2 separate regions of the Homo sapiens genome follow, and region 1 is linked to region 2. Evidence: fine-mapped expression QTL. A gene starts in region 2. The other region holds a variant in brackets. All regions are shown on one strand. Distances are between the middles of the regions. Region 1 has its middle 8.1 kb from the start of MIR12124. Region 2 holds the start of ACAD9 (acyl-CoA dehydrogenase family member 9).

What was found.
Region 1: its variant is fine-mapped to the expression of ACAD9 in hypothalamus (GTEx, PIP above 0.99).

The regions. Positions count from the first base shown.
Region 1 is chr3:128,853,414-128,856,429 of GRCh38, forward strand. No RefSeq gene overlaps it. Among named protein-coding and RNA genes, the nearest start is that of MIR12124, 8.1 kb to the left of the region's middle. The variant C/T (reference allele first, on the strand shown) is at 1,450.
Region 2 is chr3:128,878,268-128,880,767 of GRCh38, forward strand. It overlaps ACAD9 (acyl-CoA dehydrogenase family member 9), which reads left to right and starts at 1,353. Exons shown (of 18, transcript NM_014049.5): 1 at 1,353-1,574. The coding sequence starts at 1,425. It overlaps ACAD9-DT (ACAD9 divergent transcript), which reads right to left and starts at 1,169. Exons shown (of 3, transcript NR_186174.1): 1 at 869-1,169. RefSeq lists enhancers at 223-1,074, 930-1,479, 1,075-1,927, 1,540-1,619, 1,928-2,500.

The DNA.
Region 1 (3,016 bases), 25 kb before region 2:
CAGACTCTGAGGGGCCCTTGGGGAGCTCAAGCAAGGCCCACAAGATCCCCCTCTCAGGTTGCAAATTGGCATTAAGTTGGGGAGATTCAGTATTCATACCTGGGAGACACTTGCCTTCAAAGTGAAAGGAAATCCTGGGGAGGTTTTGGTGCTCCGGAAGGCAGGCAGACAGTGGGGCTGCAGCCAGGCCCTCTCCTCTGCATGAGGCTTTATGGGGCCTCAGCGTCTCCCACAATGATGGGGTCCCCCTGAGCTCCTCTTTTCAGTGTTCCCACATGAGCCTGAGTGTGGGGGACTTTCTGAGCCATTGCCCTCTGACTTCCCCTCTGTGGGCTGGGGAGGAGCTGTGAGGAGCTTCAAGGTGTGGGGTCGGGGCCCTTGGGCAGCCATCTTGGGGCACCCGAGCCCCAGCCCTCGGGAGCCCAGGTGCAGGCTCTGCCTCCACCTCTGAACGGCTGAATGGCGTGTTCAGCTGCTGTGGGTGGCAAGCAGGGAGGGCCGTGACAAGGTCTCCATTCCAGGCTGATGTTCCAGATCTGCAGGGGTGAGTATCAGGGAGGCCCGGGGTAATCACCCTGCCCAGTGGTGGCCTCTGCCATGGGCACACAGACTCCAGGCCAGGGAAGAGACACAGCAGCAACCTTGGAGGAGGGGCCTCTGCCCACCTGTGTGACAGCCACCAGGGGCTCCTGGCTTCACAGCCTTGCTGGGGAGAGATGGGAAACTGAGGCCTGGGGACCCTCAGCTGCCTGAGGTGCAGCTAGACTCAGATCCACCTGAGGCTGCCCAGTCCACCTCTTCCTTACTTCCTCCTTCCAAGAATATGGGCACAGTGGTGAGAACTTGGAGATAAGAGATCGGGACCAGTCCCAGCTGGAACCACTGCCCCACTGCTCAGCCTCTGGCAGCCACTCCTCTCTGGCCTGAGTGTCCTCTTAGTTCAATGGGCATCTCTAGGTCCCTGTGGTACCTTCCTTGTCACAGGCACATGAGGGGTCAACAGGATCATCACCCAGCACTGTTCACAGACACAGACTGAGGCTGGATCCTCGGAATCAGAGCTGGAGGGGGCCCTTTTGTGCAGATGGGGAAACTGAGCCTTGGACTGACTGTTGCGGGAATCAGGAGACTGGAGAGACCAATGGGTGAAACAGGAGGATTTTATTTAGGTGGCCACCGGCCTAGTGGGTTAATATTCAGAGGCTGATAAATGAACAAAGGCCAGGCTTAACTTTTATTCAGGCAACTGAAGGGGAGTGGCTAGCCAGTGGCACAAAACTTGCAGGGTGGGGAAAGCAAGCTTACAGAAGCAGAACAAAGGCAGTTAACTGTGACAGGTTTTGCAATTCAGGCATGTCTTGTGACCTTTGCCATCCTGCACAGATGGGAAAACAGGAACTTATAAAATCCTTGCAAACTTGCAGAAATAGTTACAAAAATAGTTACAAG[C/T]GCAGAACAAAGAATAATGGCATTGGGAGAGAATTCCAGGGGGAGACGGATAAGAACTTGTTTTTCTCATCCCTATTCTTGGAATCCATTTCTTTGGGGCCCCTGCCTGGCCTTGCAGATAATGTTATCATAGCTCCAACTGGACTTGTTTTCCCTTTACTTGTTTTTCTTATATTTCCTGCTTAATTCTCCCCTTTGATGCTGTTTATAAATAAAGTTTAATAGAAAGCATTATCATCAGAATTTAATTCTCCATGAGGAGTTAGTCCTTTATTTGGCAAAGGTTGATATTTGATTAATGCCATTAGTTGGGTGGTGGTTTACCTGGTTACAAGAACCTCTATGGCTGATTGGATGTTTTTAACAAGGAGAGGTAGGAGACAAGGGAGTGTGAGACAGACTCCCAGTATGACCAGAACTATTCCTACTAAGGTCTTAAATCTTCCAAGGGACGAAAACCAGCCCCCAAAGAGGGTATCTGGAGACCATCCTTTCCAAATTTGGACTGGGACATGGGCTAATTTTTGAATTTTTGCAGTTATATCTTCAATGACCTTCCTATTGTCATCAATTTCTAGGCAACAATTAGTTTAAAGTTTCCGCATACCCCTCCTTCTAACATGGATAGAGGGAGTAGCAAGAACAAAGTAAGGAATAGTATGTTCATACCCAGCATGGACAACAGAGGTCCTTATCCAGGGGAGGAGGTTGAGCACAGTGACAGGTTAATAGTAAAACAATTAAGATTACAAGGAAAATTACTGGGCTTAAGATTTCTAACTACATTTACTTCCTAGATGAAACTTCGGCTGTGCATAGACTAGTCAGCTTCTGGGGTGACTAACAGGACTGCTGTCTCCTCAAGCTTCAGCTGTGCATAGACTGGTCGGCTTCTGGAGTCACCAGAGCAGGGCTGTTGTCACTTTCACTGGCACCTCGGTCCTGTCATAGGATCAGCTGGTTTGGATGGTCTGAGTCTTGCTGGCTGGTCCACTTGTCCTGGGCTGCCAGTTTCAGCCAACTGTGGTGGATCTAAGGCACGATTCCTGCAACTTTAACAGCAGTGGTAGTGGACAAGATTACAGTATGGGGCCCATCCCATATGGGTCCTAAAGTGGTTGGATTCTATTTCTTGACCTAAACAGAATCCCTGGGTCTAAAGGGGTGTGTTTGGTCTGTTAGTCCTATGGGCATTCTTTCCAGTACCCAGCCATGGATCTCTTGCATGGCTCTCCCTAAGGCCTGCATCTGCCTTCTCAAGGTTAGCTCCCTTAACTCACGGAATTACCTTAATTTTGACCTTTAATTTGACCTATGGTTGGGGGTGGCTGGCCGAACAAGATTTCAGAGGGTGAATACCTAGTTTGTTTGGTGGGGGTACACCTGACTTGGAGGAGGACCATGGGCAGGACCTGATCCTATCTTAGATGAGTTTTTTGGCAATATTTCTTTAGTAGCTGCTTGAGTGTCCGATTCATGTGCTCCACTTTTCCTGAGCTTTGTGGCTGGTTGACTGTGTGTAATTTCCATTTCTGGAATCCCTGGGGGCCTGGTTTGCAACATGTCA
Region 2 (2,500 bases):
TCCATCTTGCTTCTAACCTCCAAGCTGTCCTTGTTCATTCCTGAGCGTAGGCTGAACTAACCTTGGGAAGGAATGAGTTTATAGTTTAACTTCAAAACAAAAATAGCCCTTTCCCGGGAAAACAACAACAACAACAACAAAAAACAACCTCTTCTTGCCTGGGACCAGTTGGCCTTTGGAGGACTAACAAATTAGCTATAAGATTAGAAATTACAGTTTAGAGGCCATACAGCCTTTGGTTGCAAGAGTCTGAACGTCCCCCAAATTGTTCCTGGGAATAACATCACTGTTGTAAAACCTACCAACACCCAGACTGGTAATCTGGCTCAACTAGTTCTGCAATCCCATTCAGGAACAGAAGACAGCAAGAAAAACTCACTTCGGCCCCCTATCAGTCCATCTCCAACCCGACCAATCATGCACCTCCCACTTCCCGAGCTTCTACTCGCCAAATTATCCTTAAAAATTCCGATCCGTTTTTGGGGAGACCGATTTGGCTAATAAAACTCCCTTTCCAACACACCCGGCTCTGCGTGAATTACTCTCTCTCTATTGCAATTTCCGTCTTGATAAATCAGCTGTCTAGTCAGCGGGCTGTAACCTTGGGCGGTTACAGCCTGGCCTGTCCCATCCCATCCAATAGTTCCCATCTCTTCTCAGCTCTCTCTGTAGTTTCTCTTCCTCCGCCTGCCTTTTAAGTTAGTGTTTCCCAGGACAGAGGTGACTCAGTTGTATCCAGACCGCTCTGTGACTGAACACCCACTTTCTTTTCCTTTTCCAAAAAATATATGTAACATACATGTCAACTAGGAACAAAACAGTATCTCAGGAATCCACCATCCAGTTAAAAATGGACCCTTACCCTTACCGTGCCCCTGCAGAGACCCCAATACAGCGCATTTCCCTCATTCTTTTGCTTTTCTCAAGTTTTACCACGGCCTCGTGGCCACAAGTGACAAAAGAGACAAGTGGAGGCAGCTGAGCCGGCCTTTAGGTTTCTGTACACAGGGAGATTTCCCATGGCTGGCATTTATGGAAACAACCGCTGGTATGTGAAAAACAGGTCCGTCACCGCCGTCACGACGGCCAGAGATTATACCCGCCGAGATGCCCGCGGCCCAGGGCCTACAATTTCCTCCGGCCAGCTCCTTTGGCCGCGCAAGCGCAGTGGGGCCGGCGGGAAGCGTAGGCGTGTGACGTCATCAGGCGGCGCGGGCCAGCCAGGTGCACGTGACTAAGGCCTTGGGCGCGGCAGGTGGTAGCCTTCCCGCCCTTCTGGCCTCTCCATCCCCTGCTGCGGGGGACCGCGCAAGCGCAGTGAGTACTGCACGTTGTCGCGGGCCAGTAACGTCATCAGACGTGTGTGTGTCCCTGCGGCGCTAAGAAGGGGAGACTGAGGCTGAGGCTGGGGAACATCGGGCAGCATGAGCGGCTGCGGGCTCTTCCTGCGCACCACGGCTGCGGCTCGTGCCTGCCGGGGTCTGGTGGTCTCTACCGCGAACCGGCGGCTACTGCGCACCAGCCCGCCTGTACGAGCTTTCGCCAAAGAGCTTTTCCTAGGCAAAATCAAGAAGGTAACGCGAGCCCTGGGCGAACCCTTGCTGTCTGGCTCCCGCTTTTCACCCTCAGCTGCAAGACTGGTGTTGAACTTTGTGAGATTCCCCAAACCTGCCAGAGAGATACACCCTGCGGCCGAGGCGTGTTAACACTCCGGATTCCTGAGTTCCAGGAAAACCTTCCCAGAGAAAGGGTGAGACATTTCCAAGACGGGGGACCCTTGGAAATGTGGTGGTGACGTGTTCCAGCTAAATTTTGTCAGGGGAATTCGGAAAACTCTAGGCTAGGTAATTAACAAAGCAGCCTTCATCTCAGCTGGTCTGGTCTGGAAATGTGCGGGGCTTCCTCTCTGATTCCTAAACAGCTTACACCATGTCCCTCCTCAGTCACCTTCCAGCGCCCTGGGGCTTCCTTCCCCAGGTGAGCCCAGCGCCTCTCCCTGCCATTGAGGTTCCTCAGAAATCTGGCTCCAAGATGCTTCCCAAGGGTGGCACAACCCAGCCAATAGTAACAGTTTGGTTATAAAACACTCATTGTCTTCTTAGAGTTGGAAGACTTGGGTTTGGTCTTGGCTCGTTGACTTTGAAACTCAGTTGTTTTTTTTGAGACAGAGTCGCGCTCTTGTCGCCCAGGCTGGAGTGCTCACTGCAACCTCCCTCCTGGGTTCAAGCGATTCTCCTGCCTCAGCCTCCGGAGTAGCTGGGATTACAGGCGCCTGCCCGGCTTTTTTTTTTTTTGTATTTTTAGCAGAGACGGGGTTTCACCATGTTGGCCAAGCTGGTCTAGAACTGACCTCGGGTGATCCGCCCACCTCGGCCTCCCACAGTGCTGGGATTACAGGGGTGAGCCACCGCGCCCGGCCAAGACTCAGTTCTTTCAGCCTTAAAATGGAGATAGTGTTGTGTCTCCTTCACAGATGTGTTGTAGAGCCCCAGTGAGATAA